Homo sapiens: one gene and its partners. The protein of the gene in region 4 interacts with the protein of the main gene of each other region in a pairwise test. Each region holds a gene or a part of one and is shown on either strand. Other genes may lie near its edges. The genes, in order: EFNA5, UPK1B, C3orf52 and SLC10A2.

Evidence for each region.
Region 1: the proteins of SLC10A2 (region 4) and EFNA5 interact in binary tests that used the Homo sapiens proteins (3 or more experiments, as listed by UniProt).
Region 2: the proteins of SLC10A2 (region 4) and UPK1B interact in binary tests that used the Homo sapiens proteins (3 or more experiments, as listed by UniProt).
Region 3: the proteins of SLC10A2 (region 4) and C3orf52 interact in binary tests that used the Homo sapiens proteins (3 or more experiments, as listed by UniProt).

What each region holds. Positions count from the first base shown.
Region 1 is NC_000005.10:107,660,912-107,667,937, forward strand, and holds part of EFNA5 (ephrin-A5 isoform 1 precursor), read right to left. Parts: intron 1-7,026. UniProt on the Homo sapiens protein: Cell surface GPI-bound ligand for Eph receptors, a family of receptor tyrosine kinases which are crucial for migration, repulsion and adhesion during neuronal, vascular and epithelial development.
Region 2 is NC_000003.12:119,197,582-119,204,607, reverse strand, and holds part of UPK1B (uroplakin-1b), read right to left. Parts: intron 5,552-7,026; coding exon 5,468-5,551; intron 692-5,467; coding exon 641-691; 3' UTR 1-640. UniProt on the Homo sapiens protein: Component of the asymmetric unit membrane (AUM); a highly specialized biomembrane elaborated by terminally differentiated urothelial cells.
Region 3 is NC_000003.12:112,103,379-112,110,404, reverse strand, and holds part of C3orf52 (TPA-induced transmembrane protein), read right to left. Parts: intron 863-7,026; coding exon 792-862; intron 1-791. UniProt on the Homo sapiens protein: Has a role in LIPH-mediated synthesis of 2-acyl lysophosphatidic acid (LPA). LPA is a bioactive lipid mediator involved in different biological processes, and necessary to promote hair formation and growth.
Region 4 is NC_000013.11:103,063,413-103,071,408, reverse strand, and holds the start of SLC10A2 (ileal sodium/bile acid cotransporter), read left to right. Parts: upstream 1-4,991; 5' UTR 4,992-5,159; coding exon 5,160-5,536; intron 5,537-7,996. UniProt on the Homo sapiens protein: Plays a critical role in the sodium-dependent reabsorption of bile acids from the lumen of the small intestine. Transports various bile acids, unconjugated or conjugated, such as cholate and taurocholate.

The DNA of each region.
Region 1 (7,026 bases), on a different chromosome or scaffold from region 4:
GGAGCTCCCGCCAGAAAACTACTGAAATAGGCGTAAAAGTTTATTGAAGCAGTAACAGTAAACAAATATATGAAGAAAGCACTGAATGCCACAGTATCTAAAACATTAATGGTCTGTCTGAACCCAGGGGTTACTGGCGAGATTGCAGAGCAGAGGCTAAAAGAAAAGGCCTTTAACAAAACCACTGCTTTCATCTGTCTGTTAAAAAAAAAAAAAAGAAGAAGAAGAAGAAGAAAAAAAAAGTATTAGCTAAATAAAGCAGGCAAACACTTTGCTGCAGCAGAACCATACATCTGAGCTTCCCTTAGCCTCCATTATCCCAACATGTTGAATAAAATTATTGGGAGGCAAAGATTTATAGCGACTATATGGACAGAGAAGCCATCCGGAAGCCACAAAAGCTCTGTCTGAGCCAAAGAAACATTTTCATAAATGGTAAGGTGAGAAACTTAAAATGAAAACTAAAAAGACTGATACTTTGGAGGTCTGCAAATAGCTACAGAATCAGTTTCAAGATCTCCATCTCAAAGTGTCAGTCACTTCAAAAACGCATCCTGCTACGATGGTGGCTCAGGACACTTGTGTGCCAGGGCAGTGGCCATGCTGTGCAAGTCAGAGGTCACCGCTTCCACATTCCGACATCTGTCTGTATTTTCTTGCCCTGAAACAATAGAAGGGGAACTAGGCTCATTTGCTCCCACTTTGTTTAACCTAATTGTTAGACACAAAAGATAATTTCCCATACTTAGAATTATTTTTTCCTTTTCCCCCCATTCTCATTTGTCTCCATAAAATTAAAAACTATTAAAAATGTAAGCACGTGAAGTTGTCTATACATTATTGAGTTCAGTAAATGTAACAAAGTTGTATATCCCACTGACATCTACAAAATATAAAACATCAAGTATCATGTCTGTCATCATCACAACCTAGATAACAATTTGCACTATAATTATCCAACCTAACTATGCCATAACCTCATTTAATTCAAACCACAACACTGCCTGTTTCATATAAAAATACTTTCATTTACTTTTATAATTTCCAGGGAAAGAGGCAAGAGCTAATTCTTAATTATAGTTTTTACATATATAAATAATTAATAAATTTTAAAATGGAAACTCTGACAGCTTGGAAACAGCAAGAAAAAAAACAAAAGGTATTTGTTAGTTCATTTAAAAACAAAAGGTCACTTTGAACATTCAAGTTATTTTAGTCTTCTCACTAGCCAAAGAAAAACAGATGCTAGATATCAGAGGAAAGTTTTCTGCGCAAAAATGGTCAACTCGTACCTGAACTTTAACCGCGATACATGTATCTGTTATTAAAACATGCATTTATTGCCTTTACACTACATCTACAACCACCCAAAATCCTACCTCTAATGAACTGAAGCAGTTTTTCATAAGTGACATAAGTAATATTTCACTGTGCCCAGCTTAATCAGGCTAAGTCAGGTTACTTTTGAAATTAATCTTACGGAAGCTCTGCTTTTACTGCAGTACATGAGAATAATGTTCCCAGCCATCATCAAACACATGCAGTAGTAAGCAGTATAGTATAAATTTTTAGTAAAGTTTATTAGGTCACTTGGTTTTCCAAATGTATCCAGAAATACAAAACATGACAGAAAATATAGCAGTCAGTTGATATACTCTCATAATTTTTAGTAACAAATATGAATTTACTTGTAAAATAATCTATGAGAACCCACAAGAAAGATTTGTTCTAATGTGATAGGAAGAGCCTATATTTCAGAGACAAAAAGGCTCTGACTTAATATAACGCATCTTAACCCCAACTGCTTCATATTTAGAGGTACCTATACTCTTATCAGTACCTTTTGCGGGAGAAAGATTCCGGGTAGACTTGAGTAATTAAAAAAAAAAAAAAAAGGCAACCAACAAATAAAAAGAACTACTTAGCATAGTCAGAAAAATGAAATCAGGATTTGAGGGTGGAGGTGACAATAGGGGCTATTAATATATCACTTTGAAGTTAGCCATAAAGTATAAGCTTCGAGAAAAAAATATGTATGGAAACATGGTACAGCCCAACATTTAACATTAATATATAATATGCCTGGGTTTAAGCATATTATTACTAAGTTAAAACATCCTTTTCTGTCAACTAAATATAAGAAGATAGCATTTTAGTAAGTTCGCAAATAAGATAGCGCTTTAAATGTAGAGAGCCCTGCCAAAATGATCATAAAGTGGTTTAGTCCTTTTCTATCGTCCATATTCATTTCCGAACCAATTTCACGAAAGAAATAAAATCGGTCTTAAAACAAGATGGCTGCTTCTAGGGGGGAAAAAAAACACGCTGATTTAACTGAAAGCCAAAAAACAAGCTTTTCTAAATCAGGAAATAAGCACTTAATCATATTTTTTCTAATCTCTAAGTAGGTATTCATGTGTTTCCAACATGGTAATCCATATATTATACTGCGTGGTTATTTTAAATCATTAATAGCAAAGCGATTTTTAAAACAGGTCTAATCAATGTGTACTAACAACATGATTGTCCAAGGCATATACATATTTGCTAACATATATGACTGTCCAGAGCATATGCCAAAACTCCCACTTTTAGTTCACACCAGAATCGTGATCATCAGTCATGAAAATCAGGTCACTTGATAAGCTATAATAGAAAGAATATTTATATCTTATATCTCCTAAGAATCCAATCATAAAACTTGCAGCAATATCCTATTACAATCAAATCAACTGTACTTGACTTTTTAAAAGTAAAAATCATAGGAACTTTACTGTTAGACGATCTCTCCTTGAGCTACACTTTGCTGACCCTCCCTAAAGCAACTGGAAGATCAATTCTGATATGCATATAAAAATTAAGAGCATTTTATCCATCTTGAAATAATTTTAAAATAGATTTTTAAAAATCATTCAAACGTATTTTTATTCCTCACTTGAGTGGAAAATAAGACCTGACAGTAACATTTTCTTCAACCTGTCAACTGTCAATTGTATGAAGGATGTTTCTAAAGATGACAAAGGTTTATTTTTCCTTATTGAAAATGATAGAATTCTACCTGAATGAAAGCTGAGCTAACCATCACTGTGGTACACTACTGTCTCTCAGCAACTAGCTAGCCTAAATAAGAGTTTTCAATATTTTAAAATAATGTTTTCATTGAACTATATGGTTTACTGTTTGAAAATTATATTCAGAAGCCTCAAAAACAAGAATTTGCATCCACTCAAATTTTTCAATTAGAAAATAGCACACGGATTTCAGTTTACAATAAATCCTTTAGAGAGTACAATAAAAAGTACTATCAAGAATATGAAGATATTAGGAATGATTTTACTCAAGATCATGCAAAATAGTTGTAGTCAGAAAAAACTTGATTAATTTTTAATTTTAAGCTAGATGGTCCTGTGTCATTGTGCTCCTTTATGACTGACTAAATTTTGAAAACATAAATGCAGACAAATTTAAGAGGAAATAAATCTCCTAGTAGTGAGTAATATCCTATTCAGAAGCACTGGAAGTTCACATTAATCACAAGAAACTTTTCTACAAAACAGCTCAGGACATAGGTTGAAAAGCAGACTAAAATATAAATTTGATAATATAAATCAGGCCCTTAAAAGAGACAGTAATTTATTGATGTTTGGCTGTCTAAGACCACCATCGTAAGACAAATTATTAAAAGTGAATATTAATACCTCATTTCTTATACTCCTCTTTGAGGATTTTATACCTGAAAATGAAGGTGTTATCCATCACAAATGATCAAAGGGCAATTTTTTTCCTCAGTTCAGAAAGCGGATCTGACTGAGTTGTCCTGGGTAAGAGGCAAGGACCTTCCTCACTGTGCTTAGGGAAATTGAGGCTTCCTTTGCAACATGGATATTCTAATCCGGAATGCTATTTTAACAGTTTGTATACTGCTTCTGAAAAGAAAATTGATAATATAGAATCGTCAACACAGAGTCGTTCATTATTTCAAACAAAATATCACAGCTTTTTAAGTCTTTATTGCTACCGAAGTTATTCAACACATGCACAAAAATGAGGAAGGTTGAGTGGTATCTTATAAAAAATTTTTAAATTTATATTGAAAACACAAACCAATAAGCCACTAGACCAAATGCTACCCAACATGTAAAATTCTATTCTTAACATATTCTCATATTTTGTTCATTTTTATTTTAATGCTTTCTCTCTCTCAAAGGTAAATTTTCTGGCATATACTTATCCCAAGCTAGCAAAGGCCAGAACTCCTGAAGGACTAATTGTATTCATTCATTTTCTTGGCCCAGCGTGAAGCTGGTAGCTTGCTTGGTTCATAGCAACAGGGGAGAAAAGGAGGCGCCCATCTTTATGTCCTTATCCAACAGGAAACCAGGCCAGTGGACAGAATGCAGTGAAATGCCTGTTCAGAAGGTATTCTGCAAGATTAAATGGCAAGAAATTCACAAGGTTAATTTGCACCCAAGTAACTAAGTGTTCCCTCCAAACCTGATCCTCAGCCTTCAAAGGTGGAAGCTTCTGAAGCTACTGTCAGCCACAACACACATGACAACAAGATATTAGTTCAGTGAGCTGATGGTTTAGTTATTACCACTAAAATCACCTAACAGAGAGTAATAAACTACTGAAGACTCTGATACTTTTAATCACTAGTAGTTTACTGACCTTGGTCTTACCCTGAAAATGCCAAATTAGACTGTATAGCCAAATCTGCCTCAAATAGCTCTAATGTTCCTATCATCTAAAAATCAGACAGTTGAGTATTTCTGATAGTTTATTGTGAATATATAAAATAATGAATCAAATAGGTAGAACATATCTTAGTAGCTAACTCTGCTTTTCAAAATTCTATGGAAAACTCACCAAAAAACAGGAATCATACTTCTCTTTTACAAATTTCTAGATTAAAAAGGGGGGAGGGTCAATTCACGTCTCTTATAAACATATAAGCATAAAAACATGGGTTATAAACCTCAATCATACTGCCTTATTTTTAGCCTGGTACTTGCATAAATTCTGATCTAAATTTCAGAGTAACAAAATTACTACCAATACATCTAATAATGTGATACGTTACACTGAGGCTTAAAGTTAATGCCTTTTACTTGAAAAACATTTATGTTTCTAACATACAAAATATTACTTAAAATATTTAAAATTTCAAAAGTAAGGACAATCTAAGTTTTGTGATGAAACTCATTCAAGACCAAGATAAACTTTCAATCTTTACTCACAACAAATTCTTAGATTTAAACCATGCTGATTTCATTTACTTGTCAGTGAAAAGGTCACAGTGCCGGCATACTGGTATACATATGTCAAAATGATGATGGCTCAGATTTTTTTTAAATGGAGCAACTAAATTTTGAAAGAAGAAAAATACTCAAGGGAATATGATTAGGAAAAAAAAAATGTTACTACTTCTCTCTTCTTAGCCACATACATTTGACCTGTACTGCCAGAGGACTTGGGAGTGTTGACCTAGAATTCACATTACTTTCACAACTCCAAGATTACGTGTTAACAAAACTAAAAGGTGTCAATTACCTGCTACTCTAATATGAAATGTTTAATATACAAGTCCCTACAAGAATTGAAAAAGTCCAAAGAAAACATGATTAGGTTAAAGTTTAGTAAATCCTTCATGACTTACACAGATATTTTCCTCTTAAGAGTATAACCTTTTAAATTGATGATACTCAAACCTTAACAGAAGCAAAGCACCAGGTTGAGGACGACTGGTATTCCTAAAAGTGTGTTGGTCATATTTGCTGCTGTATTATTTGACTATTGCATCAATAATGCCAACCAGTAGGAGATATGTTTAATTACCCTAATATCATTTCAGCAAATAGTCAAAATAATCCAAGAAGAACTTAGAATACGCACATGATGTTTAAAAGTATATTCTTATTAGAAGCACCAAACTGCTTATGGCATACTTCAGATGAAGAGGCATGTTCTTAGTATTATGACTCTCTTTATAAGCATAGCTACTAAAGGAGAATGTAAATAAACTTTTATTACTGGAAGTCTTTTTAACTTTATTTAAAAGCTTTTTACATTCTTAAAGAAATTAAGGACAAATAGTTATATTCTTCTTGATGTGGATTTTCATTACTCAAAGTTACTTGGTGACATTCCAGTTTAGAATTCAGAATAATATTAAAAGGATGATTTGATTATTTACACTTTTAGGTAAAACTTATACAAGTTTTCAAATTTTGGAAATATAGAAGATCTATTTAGGCAAATGTTATCATATATTTCTATTCAAACTGATAGTTCTGAGTGGCTATTTCACAAATTTGTGCCAATTCAACACATAAAAAAATCAGTTTGGTCCCCTATCCAATAAATACTACCAACTAAAAGTTATCAGCATTTGAAAACTCAGTATCCACTTCTCAGAAGTGAATACCTGGGTACATAGATTGTAACAGTAAAACTATTCTGACAGCAAATAAATTTAATATTTTTTCCCGTGAAACTACATCTATAGATGCTCATTTATCAATGGAGAGGCAGTAATGAAACTCCATGTAGAAGATAAACTCCTACCAGATACACAAGTGACACAAGTTACACAGTAAGATACTGTACTTAATCCCTGTGATCAAGATACATTTAATTCTGATTTTACCTAAACATAATTTCAAATTGAATCTGTTAGTATAAGCTAAAGTAGATTTACTTCGTTTAGACACAGTGTACATTATCATCAGTTTAACGTGCCCACTGAACATATTATATTCTGAGGGAAAAATAAAAAAAATTATTTAAGTTGCAATTAAAGTCCTCTATTCTTTTTTCAAAAGATTGAAGTCTTACTAGTTTAGCAAAATTTTAACAGATAGGTTCTATATAAAGACACAAAGCATGGCTAGCTTACTTTATGAAATAACATACAGGAAAAGGAATTGCACAACAGTGAATTTATAAAATTTACTAAACCCGTGGAAATTTTCTGAAATATTTTCTTACTATTGTTTGTGGAAAACTGTTAGTTTTTATTTTTAA
Region 2 (7,026 bases), on a different chromosome or scaffold from region 4:
CCCACGCCCAGCCCACACTTTTAATTAATGGAGAATTGAGGCTACTAAACACATACTTCAAGGTATGAAAGGAAATTTGAACCACTGTTAAGAATTATTCTGGAGAATAAAAGGATCTGAAGGTGGCATCAAGAGAATCACCCATCTCCATATATGGGAGCTACTCTAGAAAGAAATGCAAAAGGTATATTTCAGTAATCTTTTCCCAACTTCTCTGTTCCCCTGACAATACTGAGATCAACAGAAGCATTGGAAGGTTTCTTTTAGATAATAGTGAGAGATACAGGCAGATTGCTAGCCAAATACAGCTCTGGGTTACTGTGATAACACAGGTTCCTTCGAATGTATTTATTTTCCCAAATTAAAAATAAGCAGGGATGGAAGTAGTTATTATGCATTTTTCAAATTCTCCTTTCAACAGTCTATATAAATGTTGCAGAATGCTAGACTAGGATGAAAAGTAGGAGTCATGAGAACTGCAGAAGCCTGAGATCCTAAAGGAAGTCCGTACCATCTGACTTGGCAATGTAAGACACACACGTTAGTGTGGGGCACAAACGTGGAATATTAGGAGAGAGCTGGTTCCAGCACCAAATCCAGAGTCACTCGGGGAAGGAGGTATGGTGGCAACACTTTATGCTTAATATTCAATTCTGCTCCAGTAGAACATGGTACCCAGGAGAACCCAAAACTGGAATAGAAAAAAACAAGGAAAAATAAACAAGGGATTGTTTTAGAAACATCTCATTCTTGGAAAAAGTGGATGTTAGGTTCATTCAGGCTTAGGTGACAACAGATTTTTTTGTTTGTTTGTTTTTATTTCTTCTAAAAAACCAAAACAAAAACAGGATACATGTACAGAACGTGCAGGTTTGTTACACAGATGTACGTGTGCCATGGTGGTTTGCTGCACCTGTTGACCCATCCTCTAAGTTCCCTTCTCCTCACTCCTCACCCCTCAGCAGGCCCTGGTGTGTGTTGTTCCCCTCCCTTTGTCCATGTGTTCTCATTGTTCAACTCCCACTTATGAGAGGGAACATGCAGTGTCTGGCTTCCTGTTCCTGTGTTAGTTTGCTGAGGATGATGACTTCCAGCTTCATCCATGTCCCTGCAAAAACATGATCTCATTCCTTTTTATGGCTGCATAGTATTCCATAGTGTGCATGGACCACATTTTCTTTATCCAGTCTATTGCTGATGGGCATTTGGGTTGGTTCCATGTCTTTGTTAGATATCAGATTTTTTTTTTTTTTTTTTTTTTTTTTTTGAGACGGAGTTTCGCTCTGTCGCCCAGGCTGGAGTGCAGTGGCGCGATCTTGACTCACTGCAAGCTCCGCCTCCCGGGTTCACGCCATTCTCCTGCCTCAGCCTCCTGTGTAGCTGGGACTACAGGCACGCGCCACCATGCCCGGCTAATTTTTGTATTTTTAGTAGAGACGGGGTTTCACCGTGTTAGCCAGGATGGTCTCGATCTCCTGACCTCGTGATTTGCCCGTCTCGGCCTCCCAAAGTGCTGGGATTACAGGCGTGAGCCACCACGCCTGGCCTAGATATCAGATTTTTAAGAGTAATCTCGTTATAAGCAACATCACTGGGCCAGATGTGACACCAAATCCATCCTGCTCCAAAGCATCACTTATTACCTGCCACTCAGAAGCAACTTCTGTGTTCCCCACGTTCTGATCCCAGTTCTCATCCTAGATTCCTTGTCTTCTGGGGTTGCCCTTCTCGTCTGTGCTAAACTCTTTTTGCCATCAAGGCCACTTATCCTCCAATGCCTTCCTGTTTCTAGTATGTACCATTTCGGGGTAAGCATTCCTTGCTTCTAGTATTAAACTTCTCCCAGGGAACTTCTATTTTTTCCTAAAATGCTTGTGCCCTGGAATGGCTGCCTCTGAAGAATGCCACAGAACTCAAGATATCTGACTTAGGCAAGGGCTGAGTTTTATTTTAGTTTATTTGGGCTCTGTTTTAGATCTGGTACTTACTCCTGGGTAACTTTAGCCAAGTCACTTAAATTTCCTGAGCTTCAGTTTCTACATTTATAAAATAAATATAACATCTCTACCTACCCCAAGCTAGAGCAGTGAATGAGATAATGAAATAATAACAGGGTCTAATGTTTATTAGAATACCTTATTATGCATCACTCACTATTCTAAGTGTTACCCATATAACTGAAGTTAATGCTTCCAAAACCCTATGGAGAAACGGAGGCACAGAGAAGTAACTTACCCAAGGTCATAGAACTAGTAGGTGGTGGAGGTGGGATTCAAACCCAAGCAGTCAGCTTCAGAGCTTATCTAGTTAATCACTAAGAAAAAGCCCCTTGCAAGCAACAGTGAAATGGGCATGCTTAAGAGCTCTTATTAAGCACAATTCTTGAGAGCCCCACTGAATTTCTCTGCTCCTTGTAAGACAGGACACTGGCTACCTGCTTAGCTACTGTTGTGGGGATTTAATATTAAAAATATTTGACATGGTACCTTGTTTATAGCAGGCCCTCAATACATTTAATCATTTAATTCCCTTCCCTTCCCTTCCCTCTTTTGAATTTCAAGAGGGAATTAACTAGATCTAGAGTTTATTTGATACTTGTGGAAAATCAAGGGTTACAACTGGTTTGGAGTTCTAAGATACTCAAAGCCTTTAAACATTATCCCACAGTTCCTGCTAATATGGCACAAATAGAAACTTCACTGTTACCTTTCATTCATTCAACAAATGCTTGAGCCCTTACTACATGCTATGCTTGGCACTGGGGGTACAAAGAACAGCTAGTTCTCAGCTTTTTGCAGTCAAATACATCATCATGGAGAAGTTCCATCATAGAGGTGTGCTCAGGATGTTGTGAGAGCTCCTAACAGGTTGGGTTGAGGGATCATAAAAGACCCCTTGAAGGAGTTGATTTCCCTCTCCTTCCTGCCTCACTCAGTTTATCACCCCCTAAGCTAGCATTTCTTAAAGCATAGTGATATGGTTTAGCTGTGTCCCCACTCAAATCTCATCTTGAATTGTAGCTCCTATAATCCCCACATGTCATGGGAGGGACTCGATGGGAAATAATTGAATCATGCGACCGGGTTTTTTTCTGTGCCGTTCTCGTGATAGGGAATAAGTCTCATGAGATCTGATGGCTTTATAAAGGGCAGTTCCCCTGCACACGCTGTGTTGCCTGCCGTCATGTAAGACATGCCTTTGCTCCTACTTCGCCTTCTGCCATGATTGTGAGTCCTCCCCAGCCATGTGGAACTGTAAGTCTATTAAACCTCTTTTGCTTTATAAATTATGCAGTTTTGGGTATTTCTTCATAGCACTATGAAAATGGACTAATACACATAGTAAACACCTGAGGGACAGTTCAGAAGTCCATTATGTAAGGCTATCTGAATAACAATGAGAATTTATTTGCCTTTTTCACTGTTTTCATATTTGCACTGATGGTGTAAATGCAGTGGGAAGTAAAACTCCTGGAGTATTAGCAAGAATCAAGGCAGAGTCACTAAACTTTGTTAGTGATCATTGTGTCTTCACTGCTACGCACTTGCAGTAAAAAAAAAAAATTTAAAAAGCCAGTTTCACTTGAGATTGTCCTCAATGAAGCAGTAAGAACTACTAATTTTATTACATTTTGGCCTTTGAGTACACATCTTTTTAAATATTCTGCATGACAGAAAGGAAGTATTCATTCATAAAACAGTCTGTTGCATAGTGTAATATGGTTGTCTTAAAAGCACTTGCATGATTAAAAGGAAACACCACTTTTACTTTAAAAAATGATGAACAGACACGCTATGGTTGTTTGGACTTGGACATGTGGCAGATATTTTCTTGAAAATTTACAAAGTGAGTCTGTCACTTCAAGGAAAACAACTGACAATATTCATTGCCAATGATAAATTTGAACTTTCAAGCAAAAATCAGAACCTTGGAAAACTTGTAGTTGTCACCGTGAACTTGATAGCATTCCATTGCTTAAGGTATTTTCCATGTGGCAATATCAATGCCACATGTGATTTTCTGGATATTGCATACATAAATCAGTTAACATTTGGAAGATCTGCATAACACAATGAACTAATATTTTTTCCAAATAAGCAATCTATGATGTTATAGAATTATAAATGGCTGAAAGATATATGCAAAGTGCAAGACAAACCAATGTAATATATTTTAACATAACAGAGTATGAAAAGCTCATTAACAGAATTTCAGATTCCAAATTGCAACTGATCTTTAAGAAGCTACTACTTGTGGGCTGGGTGCAGTGCTCATGGCCATAATCCCAGTGTTTTGGGAGGCCAGGGTGGGAGGATTGCTTGAGGCCAGGAGTTCAAGACCAACCTAGGCAACAAAGTAAGATCCTGTCTCTACAAGAAATAAAAAAATTAGCCAGGCACAATGGTGTGCACCTGTGGTCCCAGCTACTGGGTGAATATTATTAAAGCACTATTTTTTTAATTACATGTCTATATGAAGGATGCATTTTCTCCAGATCATTCAACCTAGGCAACATATTACAACAGATTGAATGAAGGTGCAAATATGAGAATCTAACTGTCTTCTATTTAGCTAGTCATTGAAGAGATTTGCAAAAAAGTCACTATTATAAAATAGTTGTTTTTCCACAAAAATGTGTTGTGATAACTTTTAATGGGCTTATTATTTTAAAATAAATATTTTAAATTTTTCTATGTTAATTTCCAATGGGGTAAATGCCAATAGATATAGGCCACATAGAGAAAAGCTTTCTGGAGTCCTCAATAATTTTTGAGAGTGTAAAGGGGTTCTGAAATCAAAAGTTTGTGACTGCTTCTCTAAGGCAATGGTTGTCAACCCTGACAGCAGATCATCTGGGGGAAATAAAAGTGCCTTGGCTCAACCCCCAGGTCAACTAAATCGAAGTCTCAGAGGTTGGGATCCAAGCAATTTTTAAAAAAAGTTTCCCCATGGCGTTTTAATGTGTAGCCAGGGCTGAGAACCACCGCTCCAACCTCTTGCTGCATATGCGTCAGATAAAGTGGGCAGTAGGAAAGGATGAATCTGCCAGAGGCAGCTCTTTAGAAGGATCTGGGCATATTAGTATCAGGCAGGGGCCATCTAGATAGGTGACAGTCTTTGATATGTGGATGAAATGAATTAATGAGATCTGGAGACCAGGAGGAGCAGTTCACTAAGAACTCTGGCAAGGGAAAGAGGCTCTCCAGCCCTCTAAAGGCAGCTGCCCATCAGCCGGAAGAAGGAGCTGGTTGGCAGGGCACAGCCTTTCCCTGGTAGGGGAAGTTAACTCCTTGCCTCTCAAGAGAACCCACTGTCCTTCTTCCGGTGCCAGAAGTTTCCTGACTAGCCTTCAGGCCTGAGGTTTTGTTTCTAGACTTTCTAGTGTGGTTGAGGTAACCAGTGGCACTCTCAAGGTCTCTCCGTATGATCATCCTCTCAGATAAAATATGTGCTGGGAAATACTCACAGTCCAGCAGAGAATGGCAAATCCAAACCAGGCAACCCCCCAGGCGTGTCGGTTCATTGGACCAGAGATCAGTTCATAGCAGCCCTGAAGGAGTGGGCAATTCCACATTAGTGTGAGAAGAACCAGAAAGCAGAGAAGAGATTGATGGGAAAGCAGGTTCCTATTGGAATCAATGCTACTCAAAATTCTGATTTCACATATCCAGGCTATTTCCACATCTCTGAGGACAGCCAGCTACTAATAGTGCTTTACTAAGGGAACATAAACAATACTGTTGAACAATGATTCCACAACACATTTATTTGTGTCTTTATCACTTAATCTCACTAAAAAGTACTGCTATTTTAGCATAACCCTCTTTCTATACTGAATATGTGGACAATAAATTCAAAAATCTTAATTCAATTAGAATTTTTCCCTCCCCAAAGGCTTCGTTGGTGATTTATTTGGAGGCAGTTACTTTTTGATTTGTTTGTTTTTGAATAAAAATGCTTCTGTCCATGAAAACCAGAGGTCCCCTGTTGCCATTTTTAATAATCATTAAAGGAACTCCTGCATTATGCTCCCTGAATTCTCATTTGATGTTATATTTCAACATATCTTTACTGGATTCTAGTGAGACCTTGAAGGGTCACAGTGAGCATGCAAAGGAATAATTTTTTTATTCACCAAATCATCCATTCATGCATGCCACAATCCAGTAAGTATTTATACATGGCGCACTCTATCCTAGTCACTGTGCAAAGTTCTGGAGTGATACACGCATGTAAGGCTAGAGCTGCCATCTGAGCAGCCTCTACCAAAGCTCTGGGAACCAAAGGGAATGCCTAGGAAATGCAATAACCAGGGCTGGTTCCATGGACCATGCGGCTCTGCCTCTCACCCCATCTTCCACTACCAGAGGAGGTTTCTCTATAAAGCGAATGAGCTTAAGCTTCAGGGCCCCTTACTTGCAAGACCCTTTCAAGGCCCTGTGCCTAATTTTGTATGCATATTTTTATTGTTTTTCCTAAGAAGGATCCTTCCCTATAATTTGTGTGTGAGGGTGGGGGTGGGGGACTCCAGCCACAAAAAATCTAGCTCCATCCTTGTCATCTACTCATCCTTCACTCATTCTGACTTTGTCATACTGATCTCCTTTATGCTCCTTCAAAAAGCTGGGCCTGCTCCCACTTAAGGGCCTTTGCACTCACAACTCCTTTCTTGTAGAACTTTCCTCCCCAATCTTCCGGTGTCTCATTTTCTCACTTAATTCAAACCTCTGCAAATATCATCTCAACAAAGCCTTTCCTGACAGTGACAGAGAAAAAGACCCTTTCTCCATCCTACTCTATATACTCACCCTGCCTTATTTCTGCTCATGGCCTATTTGGGCCTGGAATTTTATCATGTATTTGTTTGGTAACATGTTTATTTTCTGTCTCCCATGCTAGAATGCAAGCTCCATGAGGGCAGGGATTTTATGTTGTTCACTGTTGAATTTCTAGAACCTAGAACAAGTGCTTGGCACATAGTAGACACGTAATAAACATTTACAGAATGAATGGAACATTAATGTT
Region 3 (7,026 bases), on a different chromosome or scaffold from region 4:
GGAGGCAGAAGGGAGACTTTTCCTGTGCATACCTCTTTATGTCTTCTTTTTTTTATTTTTATTTATTTTTATTTTTTTGACAGAGTCTCACTCTGTCACTCAGGCTGGAGTGCAGTGGCGCAATCTCGGCTCACTGCAACCTCCCCTCCCGAATTCAAGAGATTCTCCTGCCTCAGCCTCCTGAGTAGCTGGGATTAGAGGCACCCACCAACACACCTGGCTAATTTTTGTATTTTTAGTTGAGACAGGGTTTCACCACGTTGGCCAGGCTAGTCTTGAACTCCTGACCTCAAGTGATCTGCCCGCCTTGGCCTCGCAAAGTGCTGGGATTACAGGCGTGAGCTACCACGCCCGGCCCCTCTTTACATCTTTAATACTAAACAAGGAGAATGTACTCCTGTATTACTTGTGCTCCTCAAAAGCAAATGCCTATACATGTATCACTCGCATCACAGCACGACCTGAGATCTATTTCTACTTCTACCCTTAGCTTATTTGAGCATTCATTGTTAAACAGAAATGGTTTACCTGGGACTGGCTTTTCCCCTCTTCTGTGTGACCCTGGTTGAATTATACCATTAATCTGGGCTTCCTTTTTCTCATTTGTAAAATAAGGGAGTTGAGCCTGTTGGTGTAAAAGACCTTCCCAGCACTGACATTCTGTGATTCTATTACAGGTTCCCTTCATGCTCTGAGGCTCTGGGAATCCCTGCTAGGTAAATGACGAAGGGTGGGGTGGGGGGATCTCTTTCCAGAGAAAGAGAGCAAAATGTAATGTTCCACACTCTTACCTGAAGTCCACTATTTCAACTGAAGTAAAATAACGACCCAGAGAGGGCGATGTACTGTACACATCTGTGAGCTAAACAAACAGAAGCAAATTAAACCACACACATTACCGACAGATCATATTACACATCACCTGACAAAGCAAAACTGCTTCTAAGGCAGAGGAGATTCCACTCCAGCCTGGAATCAACGTTATCTGGAAGCTCTGGATCAAGAATTGAGCCCACCATAAATCAAAACTCAAGTTAATGCTACTTCAAAAGAACTCCATTTATAAGGACCAAATGACTCAGTTTCTCTCAGAAGTTGCACTGGCACCCTGTGGCCTTAGTGGTGAGAATATCAGCAGCTGGAGCCCACACAGGCCTCACAGACCATAGGAAGGAGAGAAGAGAAGACCCCAAAATGGCTGCTGGACAGCAGCAGCACAGACCACTTAGCACCTGGGACATTGCTTAGCCCAGGGCTTCTTTCTCCCTTCTCCAGAGCTTCAGTGTAAAGACAAACAGCCATGCTAAGCCATGGGTCTAGCACATCCCCTGGACAAAGAGACAAAGAGGGGAACTGCAAAAATATGGAGGCTTTATTTTATGCATGAAATATTGCAAGCATCATAAAAAATAATGACACCTGTGTTTCCACTACCTAGCTTTCATGTCTTCATATTTGCTATATTGGGTTCAGCCCTTTAATTTAAGAAACAAAATAAAGCTAAAGTGACTCCTACATACTATTCAGTTCCTCCTCTCTCTCTTTCTTAATACTAACCATCATTCTGAAGCTGGCATGCATCCTTTCCTTGCATATTTTTACAAATTACTACTTATTTATGTAATCATAACAAAATATAATTTGTGTTTTTATTCAAATAAAAGGCACCATATTCTACATAATCTTCTAAAACTTGCCTTTTTTCACTCAAAATTACATTTAAGATTTACCCATAAAGTAAATCTCAATGAAAGGCATTCACCTAACTCCTGCACAGATTCCTTTAAATGAGTATACCAGCCTATCCATTCCTCTGATGATGATCACATGCACTATTCTCAATTTTCCCCATCACAACTTATGCTGAAGCAATCATCCTTAATGTCTCCATGCATCTCTTCTTGGACATGCGGGAGTTTCCAATGGGCATATGCCAAGAAAAGGAATTGTTGGGTTTAAGGGTAGGTGCATCTCCAACTTCACAAAATTGTTCTCCCTTTCCCACCCCTCCCAGCAATGTATAAATATCCATTTCCCACATCCTTACCAGCACTTAGTGTTACCAAACTTAAATTTTTACCACTCCGAGGAGTATAAAATAGTGCTTCACATTGTTTTAATTTGTACTGCCTCGCTTACTAGTGAGGTTGAACATCTTTTCATGTTTATTAACTCTTTGGGACTTTTCATCTCTGAATTTCTCACTCATTTCCTTTCCTTCTCTTGGCTTATCTGTCTTTTTCTTATCTATCTGAAGTGGTTAGTTTTATATTCTGGATACTAGTTGTTGATATTATGTTACAAGTATCTTTTCCCAGGCATTGAGTAGTTGTGTTTCAGATATCTGAATCCTAAACTAGTAGTACTAGGAACATGTGCCATCCCCAGCTACAGCCATTATGGCTTAATGACCTATTACTTTATTCAATAACAAGCAGTCGAACATACAAAAAACAGCAGTGCCCTATGGGGAGCTTACCCTGTTTCCCCTCAACTCCAAATGGAATGTCAAGGACGCTGCACTTCCACAATACACTCCCATTTAACTCAACATGTACAACCCATATCTCAAAGAGAACAAAAGATGAGAGTGCCTGCTATTTCTGCTCTTCTAATCTTGTCACTACTGTTGTGATCTTTATAAAAACCTGGCAAAACAGGCATTAATATATCTCCCCTTTTTACTGGAAAATTAAACAGCACTCCATTCCATGAGATGAAGAAAACCTGTCCCAGGTCACTGTGCTAGTAAAAGGAGAAGCCAAAATTCAATCCTACATGTTATGAACACTAAAAACCAGCTTCTTCCCATCTGACCACACTACCCAGTGAAGAAGAAATTGATATATATACAGTGAAGGAAAGTGTCTCCTGAATATCAAGGAGGAAAGAAGCTTAAAGTGACAAAAACTTTCGGAGAAAATGACTGAGTCATTGTACAGCTCTTAAGCCCCAATGCACAGGATGTTGCCGATAGGCTGACAGTCATTTAGAAAACTCGGGAACTAGGAAAGCAGCTTTCACGGGGATGCTGTGATGGAGAGGAGGATGAGGATGCTGCAGAGGAGAATCTTTTCAAGCACTAATGTCAAGCACTCATGTCTTTCTCTTCCTTTTGGATTGAGCTTCCTATGGCAAAGGTGATATTTATCCTTCCTTCCAGTCTTCTCTGCTTCCTCCTTCCCTTCTTTCCTTTATTAATCTTTAGGGCCCAGCACAGTGTTTTGCACATAACAGGCTTTCAGCAAATTTTTAAGTTAAAATTTTAAGGTAACATATGGAGTGGTCGACTAAATCATTTTTAGTGTTCACTCGAAGATTCTTTTTGATCATGCTCCTCTGCTGTACTTAGGACATATTTACATTTGGGGAGCTGTTAGTCACACTGTCCACTTTGGGCCCAAAGAAGTGAAATAGGGTGGTTCCTCAACCCTTAGTCTTGTGTCTCCCACACAATGTCTATGAGGCTTGGTGCAAACTGAGCAAGGAGCTCAGCGAATTGATTAGCTGAGTCTGATGCAGTGGCTAATTAGAGACCAGCTTCCAGAATAAGGCAGGTGCCATCATTAACTCCTAACCCATGCACAGGGTGTGGTAGTCACACAGGCTGGCTTAAGCAGAGTAATGGCCCCAACCCTGAGAGGAAAACACTGTGGCAGTGACACATGGCAGGGCCTGTGTTTAGAAAAGTCAAGGGAAAGGGCATAAAGTTCCAATACTGTGATATAATAACAATATGTATACTGTTTAGTCTCTGCCCCAGTTCCTGGCACAGAATTCCTAAAACCCTTGTTACTTCCTGAGTGACAGGGGCGCCGGGTACATCTTTTACTCTAACATTTGGTCTTTACTCCAGCTCCTGACACAGACCTGCTCCTAAATCTCTTGCAGTTTCCTGGGTTATAGGAGTGTCTTTATTTCTGATGAGGCAACTCTTGGCGGGCTGCTGGATGGGGGCTGATCATCAGAAAGACCAAGCCGCAGCTAGAAGCTTGGAACTTTCAGCCAGTGTGGTGGAGTGGGATGGTGCATGCGTGTAGTCCCAGCTACTCGGGAGACTGAGCAGGGAGAATCGCTTGAGGCCAGGAGCTTGATATCAGCCTAGGCAATATAGTGAAAACTGTCTGGAGAAAAAAAAAAGAAGAAGAAGAAATCTGAAGCTTTTGGCCCCACCTCCACCCCCATCCTCCAGAGGGGAGAGAGGCTGGAAAGCAAGCTAATAATCCACCATGCCTATGTGAGGAAATCTCCATAAAAATCCCTAAAAGACAGAGTCTGGAGAGCTCCCAGGTGGCTGAACACATTTACAAGGGAGAGTGGCACACCTGAAAGGACATGGATGCCCACATTCTGTCCCACGTGTCCGCCCTATGTACCTTTTTATCTGGCTTTTGATATCCTCTATTTTCTACAGTGTGCCCATAAATGTGATGCTTCCCTGAGCTCTGTGAGCCATTCTAGCAAATGACCAAACCCAAGGTGGGGGTTTTGGAGACCTCCAATTTGCAGCTGGTTGGTCAGAAGCACAAGTGACAACCTAGACTTGTAACTGAACTGGCATCTTTTTTTTTTTTTTTTTTTGGAGACTAAGTCTCGCTCTGTTGCCCAGGCTGGAGTGCAGTGGCACGGTCTCGGCTCACTGCAAGCTCTGCCTGCCGGGTTCACACCATTCGCCTGCCTCAGCCTCCCGTAACTGGCATCTTAAATGAGGGAAGTTTTGTGGGGCTGAACCCTTAAACTATGGGGTCTGCACTAACTCCAGGCAGATCATGTCAGAATTGAACTGGATTGCAAGACACCCAGCTGGTGGCAGATAATTGGTTGGTGTGGAAAACACACACACACACACACACACACACACACACGGCCAAAGAAGTGTTCTGCATTGAATGTGGGTATAGAGAAAAAAATAATTTTTCCCCCACAAATACCCACTTCCATTTACCTTTTATATCCAGAAACTTCTGAAACTTGACCTAATGGAAGAAAGGAGTTATTGACCTGACAATAAGACAGCAATACCTTTAGGTGCTAATTTTTGTTCCTGAGCATATTTGGTTGACGAATGAAGGGCAGGAATCTGTCACCTCACTATGCCTTACTTTGATCATTTGTAAATAAGATAATTCTTTTAAAATGTTTTTCAAGTTATTTTTATGTAATCTCATTTGCACCTGAGATACACAGAGAAAGTGCACTGGTTTCCATTTATCAGCGAAGAAACTGGCTCAAAGAAATCTGTGGACCCACCACAGGCATCAATGTCAGTCCCTGTTCTTTTGCCACTACCTAGTGATGAGCTCAAAATACCCGCAGAATTTCCTCATATCTGACTCTGTGCAAGATATATGGTTGTAAAATGAAAAATGAACATTCATTTACCTTTGAAATAGACAGTCTACTATGCAACAGGTGACACATGTGGATGCTGACTCATCTTATTTCTGCTCAGCAAATGCAAAAACCTCTCCATTAAAAAAGCAGCCAAGAGGAAAGTAGCAAGAAGCGTCTCACTCAGCAACTTGCCCCAGGAAGCAGGTGGAAGGAAAGGAGAAAAGGAGGTGAAGATAAGACATAAATGAAGAGACTTCAAGGACTTGATGGAAAAGGTGGTGGGGGTGAGGGATAAAAGACTACAAATTGGGCACAGTGTACACTGCTCGGGTAATGGGTGCACCAAAATCTCAGAAATCACCACCAAAGAACTTATTCATGTAACCAAATACCACCTGGTCCCCCAAAACCTACGGAAATAAAAAATAAAAATAAATAAATAAATTTAAACAATCTAAAAAAAATTTAAAGATATAAATGAAGAGAAGGAGAAAGAGAAATCTGGAGTAATCATCACAGGATACCAACTCCTGTGATAAAAGAAGCAATGAAATCTCATGCGTGGGTACCCAGAAACTGATTCTGATGTGACCTGGATGGAATCGCCTCTTCAGGAGCTTTTGTAGGAATCAAATCGAATGGAAGTTAGATAAACAGCACTCACTCCATTCAACCTAGCAATGGCAGAGAAGAATTTAATGGAGGGCAGCCTGCTCTTGCCTAGATTTTCTTATCAAAATTTCTGGGTCTGGCTGTGAACCACCTTGTCTTTGACAGGATGATCAGGATGCCCCACCCAACGGTCCTAGTCTGGCTGCAGAGCTTCCATCTTCCACAGAGGGTTCATTCTCCTGGGTTTCTCATCCCATGACTGACACCGCCATCCATCTGCCCAATCACTCAACTGGAGCTTGGAGTCATGCTCTCCTCACCACCACCCAATCAGTCATGGACTCTTATTGAGTGAGAATACCTCTTAAATCTCACGCAAATCTTCCTTATTTTCCCGACACTGCCCTAGTTCAAGTCTCCCTCATTTCTCACCTGGACTATTGTAACACCTTCTAACTGATCTCTTCCTCCTGGCTTTCTCCACCAAAACACAGAAAGGCTAAAAGGAAAAATCTAACTGTGTCAATCTGCTGATTAAAATATTTTGGTGCCTTATTGAAGAGTGGGAAAGCCTTCATGACCTGACGCCTGCCTTCCTTTTTAGCCTTATCTCTGCCAGCTGTCACCACAAAGCATGGGAAGGCCACAGTACACTACTTTGCAGATCCTTTAATGTCCCATGCTTTTTTATTTAGAACATTCCTACCTCATTTCAAAACTCATCCTGAGCATCACTTCACTTAACAGGCCTTTCATGCCTTCATCTTCACCTGAGGTAGCTCAGATGCCCCTCCTTTGCCACTGTACAACACACTAGAACATACCACACTATTATAAAACGATCTTTTTAGTCACTTCCTGTACTTGGACTGTGAGACCCCTGAAGGCACAGACAATGTGGCCCTGGCACTTGGCATGCTGTCTAGCACATCACAGACCCTCAATGAATACTATAGGTTGAATTAAATGTAGGACCTAAGGGAGTAAAAAGAACAGTGTCCTCCAGCATTTATGCAGCTGGAGGCCAGGAATCTTCCCTCTGGCTTTGCACTACAGTAAAGATATTTACTTATTTTTTTA
Region 4 (7,996 bases):
ATACAGGATAATTAACAGAGCCAACCCTTGCTAAAACGATGAAAGTGAACTAGCCATCCACCTACCCACCTCCTAGCCCTACCCCCCAACTTCTCCTCCCATCTCTACTCCCAGCCTTTATTCTCTCCTGACTTCTTCTCAAGTTTAGTGTCATTTCCTGCCTTCTCTAGGCATGGGCACAGACCACTCCCCAATCTCTTCTTATCAAATGTGTCAGGTTGATTTTTGTTTTTGTTTTTGTTTACTTTATATTGAAGTATTGGTACTTGTGACCCCTCCTAGTCTCTGATCTTCCATACTGCCAAGGTAACGACTATCCTAACTTCTAACACCATAGATTTGCTTTGCCTGTTTTTGTATGTGTTCTTTAGTTTCTGGTTTCTTTCACTCAACATTAGATTTGTGGTAGTAGATTACTCATCCAGCTGATGTATAGAAGTCCATCGTGTGAATATACCACAATATATTTACCTATTCTACCCTTGATGGACATTTGGATAGATTCCAGTTTGACGCTATTATGAATGGAGTCACTGTGAACATTCTAGTTCATGTCTCTTGGGGAACTTAATTTATAGATTTCTTTAGATTGAAACCTAGGACTGGAATGGCTGGGTCGGAGGGCATATGGACATTTAGCTATAATCATTTTCCAAAGTGGTGGGACCATCCTACAGATGTTTAATAAGGATTCACATTCATTCATAAAAACCTGAATAGTCTGCACAGTATTTTCAAAAGAAGCAGATCTAGAACCCAGTTCTGATTCCAAGCCTAGTGCATTTTCCATCCAGTAGATTCCAGGTTCTTCTATCCTACTTTCTTCTCCTCAATACTATGCTGCCTTTTCCCTCTAAAGACTCAAGAATGAATAGCTAGTCATTCACGGGGCATTCTCCCCAAGGTACTTGTTGCCTTAAAGAGGGTCAGTGGTAACTCCAAAGAGCTCTAATTGTGGGACTTTCAGGTTTCATAAAAGATCAATCTGTAGAAAGGAACTAGAGAGGAGAGAGAGGGAGATAACTTCAGTCACAGGAAAGTACTTAACAGAGTCAATCAAATCCAAGAGGGCCATTGATCTGAATAGAGCCATTTGTGATGAAACACAATAGAAGATAGGAAGCTCATCTTTTATCATGTGAACCTCAGGGCAAACATGCTAGAAAGCTATTGAACCCTGGCCTCCTCAAATTGATACACAGGAACAAAAGGGAAGCCTCAGATGTCAAATTCTCATGTCTGCGCCCAGGCGGCCAGAAGCAGGAACCGGCTCCTGGTTTCTTGAGGGTGGCCTGCATGTGAGCCCAGGGTGTGACAAAATGTAGCAGAAAAGACTGAGAAGGATGACGACGAAAATGAAGCTCCAGCCTCCTGACTACCCCTCTCAGGTGTGCATCTGTTTCCAATTCCGTATTACAATTAAAGAGAATGATTTTTTATTTTTTTTAATTTTATTATTATTTTACTTTAAGTTTTAGGGTACATGTGCACAATGTGCAGGTTAGTTACATATGTATACATGTGCCATGCTGGTGTGCTGCACCCATTAACTCGTCATTTAGCATTAGGTATATCTCCTAAAGCTATCCCTCCCCCCTCCCCCCACCCCACAACAGTCCCCAGAGTGTGATGTTCCCCTTCCTGTGTCCATGTGATCTCATTGTTCAATTCCCACCTATGAGTGAGAATATGCGGTGTTTGGTTTTTTGTTCTTGCGATAGTTTACTGAGAATGATGATTTCCAATTTCATCCACGTCCCTACAAAGGACATGAACTCATCATTTTGTATGGCTGCATAGTATTCCATGGTGTATATGTGCCACATTTTCTTAATCCAGTCTATCATTGTTGGACATTTGGGCTGGTTCCAAGTCTTTGCTATTGTGAATAGTGCTGCCATAAACTTACGTGTGTATGTGTCTTTATAGCAGCATGATTTATAGTCCTTTGGGTATATACCCAGTAAAATGGGATGGCTGGGTCAAATGGTATTTCTAGTTCTAGATCCCTGAGGAATCGCCACACTGACTTCCACAATGGTTGAACTAGTTTACAGTCCCACCAACAGTGTAAAAGTGTTCCTATTTCTCCACATCCTCTCCAGCACCTGTTGTTTCCTGAGAATGATTTTTATATATTTAGATACTTTCAGTGTCTGGATTTGAATATAGCTGAAGTTAAGGGTACTAATTAATTGTGAATCATTCCGATACTTGAATATAAAACCTCTCAAGCCTAATGTGCAAATTTATGTAAAAACAATGTGAAATTAGAAATGCATTGGCACTTTTTTTTAAGCAGAACTGTAGCACTCTGTCTAGTCAAACAGACTGCTCATTTGCAAGTTGTCTATATGCAAAGCATTCTGCCCCTGGGAGCCTAAAATCTCCTTAGAAAGTCATCTGAAATTTGAGAAGAGCTTTGTTCTGAACCTGCTTTCTGCTCCCTTCACTTTTCTTCCCTGCTTCCAGCACTGTGAGCAAAAAGCCTAAGTATGGATCACACCTGGCCAACCCAGAAGCAGCCATGGCCCAAAACAGGAGGCCTGCCCTGGGAAACCCATTTGAGTTCAAAGGAGGGTGTCTAAATATGCTTGTCTTGAGCCCTGTGCATTGGGCCTTGCACTGCAGCCTTCCAACTTTAAGAGAAATTTCAGAATCCAAATCCTTCCCGCCTGCAGGGCTCAAATTTTCCTTTGCAGATCAGACCTGGTGAAGAGGCTATTTGCCGTTCAATCCTAGGCTAGCTTTCTGCCTTTCACCTAATGTTTGAGGTTAAGAGAAATCAGAAAAGAGAGACCGTAAACTGATCACCACTGCATGGGCATCTGCCTCACCCACCTTTGGGAGTTGGGGGAAGAGCCAGCCACAGGTGCTCAGGTGCAGGTGCCCAGGTGTGAGCGGCTAGGTGCAGATGCTCAGGTGTGGCAGCAGGGAGTGCACTTGGCTCATCTGCCCTGGGGAGGGCCAGCTCCCGACAGAAGTAGGCCAGAGGTCAGTCCCAGGAAATGCTTGGAGCAGCCAGCAGGGTAGGGCCAAGTCATGATACACCTAGGAGTGGGAGGGGAGGCCTCTTTGGATATTACCTGGTTTATCATTTAGCTGTTGGGGTGGGGAAGGAGGTGGGAAAGACAGAAGGCTCTCCCAGGAATTGGCAGGCAGCCAGGTCAGGGACAATGGCAGCCCCCACTTGTGCTAGAAAGGCAGGCAGGACGTGACCACTCAGATAGCCACATCAACAAGTACAAATCACGGTTGCCCTGGAAGGAAATGGCTCAGGTTTTTCCCAGTAGCTCAATGCCTAGGCACCCCCACCTGTGGTTTGGGCATTTCACTCTATTAGCTCTTCTGCTCAGTGGCCCATTCTGCTAGCCACAGCTCACATTTACTCCAGTTATGAAAAAGGTTAATTTTCCCATATTGAGTTTCTCTGCAAAAGCTGCTTTCAGTTGTGACCGGTAAGTTCCGTTGTCACCAATATGGGTACAACTGTTGTCACTCTGCTATTCTGAAGCCATGATACTAAAAGTGTGACCCCAGATCAGTGTCATCGCCATCAACTACAAGCTTGCTAGAAAGAAAACTCTCCCTAGACTTCCAGAATCAGAATTTGCATTTTAACAAGGCCCCCAGGGGAATCCTGTTCACACTGAGTTTTGAGAAGCTCTGTTCTAAGATATTACTCCAATCCCCAGCAAGCCAAACCGACCACTTTCTTCACATAATCAGAACGCTCGGTTCCAGTATTTCCAGATACCAGCCATAGGAAAACACGTTGTTCTCTCATTTCCCTTTAACCTTATCTAAAGCACTCAATTTCCTCAACCCTTAAGTCGTCATCTGTAAAATGGGAGTGCTAATCCTACTTAATTTAAGATGATTAAGTTGAATAATAAATTAGAATTTGTCCTACAAATTGTGAATCATGATCGGAATATTCAATTTTATTATTACTCTGTGTCCTAACTCAATAACTGGGTTATAAACTCCTGAAAACAGGACAATCTCTTCTCTACCTCTTTCTTTATCTTCCCTGTATACTGAAATACAGCGTTCTGCCCAGCATGAGGTCGACTATTTGACATTTACAAAAATCTCTCTTGGAATCCCCCTGCCAAAAAAAAAAAAATCGAATTTCAATTTATGACTCCAAGCACAAAGAGATCCTGTCACTTTGACCTAATTCTCTGAGGTTCATCCCTCTAAATAATTGTATTGTCTCCATCTATAAAGTACTCTGTTACTATGACAACGCACACATAATTGCATGTGTAAGTAGTTGAGGGTGGCTGTGCAAGTCAGACTCCTTTCCACCAGGAAACACAGAAAACATTCTATCTTCCCAAATGTTACTCTCTCAGATTTGCACCAAGACCCTAGAAGTTTCTTAAATTTCCATATACTTTATGGACACTACAAAGCAATTCCAGGAAACACTGATACAGTAGCAAAACTACTGGGAGTGGAAATTGGATGGAGATCTGGGTCCCAGTTCAGAGTCTGACACCTGATTTGCAACATAATTAGGCACAGGGCACTCAACTATTCAGGGCCCTAAACCCTTCTATTGAAAGGGAAATGGGAGAACAATATGTGTTCCTATGGCTCAGTCCCTATAAGATTCTGTACTATTCAGAGTTGATTTTAAGTGTCACTTAACTGAAATTATCCAACAAACCTTCATGGCATGAAACATTAACACAGCTCTTTTTATATGGCATGGTTCCTATGGCTCAATCCCTATAAGATTCTGTACTATTCAGAGTTGATTTTAAAAGTCACTTAACTGAAATTATCCAACAAACCCTCGAGGACATTAAACATTAACGTGGCTCTTTTTATATGGCATGGTTCATTATCATGCCAATAAATGATTAATCGTAACTCTCTGTCTTGACCAATAATTTTGCTGGACTTTTGTGATTCACAACGTGCTCTGTGTTGTAATGCTACCTCTTGAAACTGACATCCTAGCTTTATTGTTTTTTATTACTTCCCTAAGGTGGCTTTCAAAAGAGACACCAAGTGACATATTTTTAGGAGGGGTTTAAAAGTTTGATGGGGTAGAAGTAAACGTTGCTTAACTCAACCAGCAGCAGAGCCAGGGCCCAGGGACCAGCGCTTCTGTGGACTTGGCCTTTCCAGCAGCAGACCCAGCAATGAATGATCCGAACAGCTGTGTGGACAATGCAACAGTTTGCTCTGGTGCATCCTGTGTGGTACCTGAGAGCAATTTCAATAACATCCTAAGTGTGGTCCTAAGTACGGTGCTGACCATCCTGTTGGCCTTGGTGATGTTCTCCATGGGATGCAACGTGGAAATCAAGAAATTTCTAGGGCACATAAAGCGGCCGTGGGGCATTTGTGTTGGCTTCCTCTGTCAGTTTGGAATCATGCCCCTCACAGGATTCATCCTGTCGGTGGCCTTTGACATCCTCCCGCTCCAGGCCGTAGTGGTGCTCATTATAGGATGCTGCCCTGGAGGAACTGCCTCCAATATCTTGGCCTATTGGGTCGATGGCGACATGGACCTGAGGTAAGATTATCTATACCTCTAACTACTGCAATCACCTTGGAGTAATCCTTCCAGAAGCCTATGGCATTCTGAATGTCCAACTGATTTGCCACGCATCTAAAGTATGACTAAGGAATCAAACAGGAGAGAATAAATGCATTCCCGTGCCTTCTAGCACAGCTGCTTAGCTATTGGAATTGGGGGATTTATATTTTGTGTTTGTGTTTTTAAATCTAACTCAGTTAACAGGGAGTTGCATAATTGCTGTTGATCTCTAGGAAAAGATTCAAAGCTTTTTTAAAAAAGTAATCTTTTCCAAACCACAAGCTGCAGCTGAGGAGGTTTATCCTGTTGGTAGCAGGAAAAAAAAAGCAAAATACACTTTCTTTGTAATGATGAGGAGCTCTGGGTGCAATCATAAAATAAAACTGTTTGTCAAACATTAGAACCTGTAGTGAGACAGTGGTCAACTCCATCAAATATAGCCAGTTCTTTGGGCAAACATTTTCCTGGTATAAAACCTAAGGAAGAATTTGTAAATTTGCTTCACCTCTACTGGCATTAAAAGTGGGGGAAAAAGCCTATAGCAGCTTTTTTAAAATTATGCTTACCTTACTACAAAATAAACAGAAAACGTTTTCTCCACTTCCTACAGAGTAATCTAAATTGCAATGTTTGCCCATTTCATCCCGTGCCAGTCTGAACTAGCACTGGAAAAAAAAACTAATAGAAATAAGATGAAGCATTAATGTGACTAGATTGAGAAATTTAATGCTAAAAGTTGAATAGACAAATGTCTTTTTCCTTAGCTCACAATTCCTCATTTCCCTTGAAAGGTATGCATTTCCTTCTGCAAACCATCCAGGTGCTAATGCAACGTGTGCTTATTAAATACTGTACAGTAGGCAATTAGCTCTGTTCATCCCCAGCTACTATTGGCAGAGGAGAGAAGCACAAAGTGTAGAATTGTAAACACTGGATTGATAGAGTACCCAGTGATCAATTAGGAACCTGCTGTCTCATTTCAACTGGTGCTGGTTTCTCCAGAAGCTTTAGAAAAGTCATACAAACCCTATACCTTCATATGGTTTAGTCTTTCACATAAGAAAACACATGATATCCACCTTGCAATTGCTTTTTTTTTTTTAAGGAAAGCCCTATAAAACAACATAGGATGGCAAGTGCTATTCAGGTTTAGTTAATCTGTGAACCACGATATAGCAATAAGGTCTTTTTAGACCTCAATTTAGTTTGACCTGGACACAGGTACACAGAAGTGAGAATTCTAAATGCCAGCACCTGTTACACTGAGAAAAGTGAACTACTTGGAACATTGGGCCTTGACCCCCAATAAACAGCTTTCTCATAATATTTGTAACTTTTAGTGCAGAGGAGTTTTGTACCTCAATGTAATACCACATATGGAACCCTTTTATAAGACAGAAAAAAAACGTGTGTGGTACTGGACTATTAGGTTGTTGAAATGAATTCTCTTCTGTGAGCTAAAAACAGTAAGATCTAACCTAAAAGCTCCAAGTTACATTTTTCTGTGGTTTTAAGGAAATCTTATTTCTCTTGAAACAGGAGATGATTATGTAATCCTGTCCACCTAGCATAACAATTCCTATAAATTATTTTTTTTAATAAGAACTAAAAGTAGAATATGAAGCTTTGGTAGAAACCTCCAGCTAAATCCGTGCAAATGAATCCTTCCAGCAAGTCAAAATAAGCCCTGTAACGCAACATGGAGCAACCTCACCTATCCAGAGCTCAACAAGACCCAATAAAAGACACTGCACACCCAAAATAAATTTCACTTAATCTCATAAATGCTCCTCATGCGGGACCGACTTAACTATTTTTATTTTAAAGTTCTGTTGTGCTATTTCCCAGAAATAAGAAGCGGGGAAGGAAGCAGAGTGTTAGGAAGGGCAAAAGAGAAGATCAAATGCCTGCAAAGCAAAGCAGACACTGACAACACACAGCCATCTCTCTATCATTTATCCTCTATCACTTATTCTCTCTATCACATATTCTCTCTTAATTATCAATTATTCTCTCTGGTTTCTGTAGCACTTATTCCAGTCTCTGGTCTCTGTATCACTTACTCTTCTACAAACACAAGAAGATGTCACGGTATTTTAGAACAACCGATAATCATGTTTATCATGATCGGTCTTAATCATTGAGAAGAGGTTAAATTATACTGCTATGTAAGATGATGACATTATGCATTGTGTGTTAGGAAAACAATATTCCAATATTTCTTTAATACAAATTAATTAAAAGGGTAAAACCTGAGCTATTGCGTAACAGTTTTCCAAAACTTTTTATTCTTCTGGATTAAGAACTGGATAACTAAAGTCTCCTGATAATTTACTTAGATACAATCCTATCTAACATTTATATTTCCAGTTGTGTACACTTAGAATTTTACCTTCTCCATCTCCACTTGAACTCCAGCAATGGCATGAAGACATG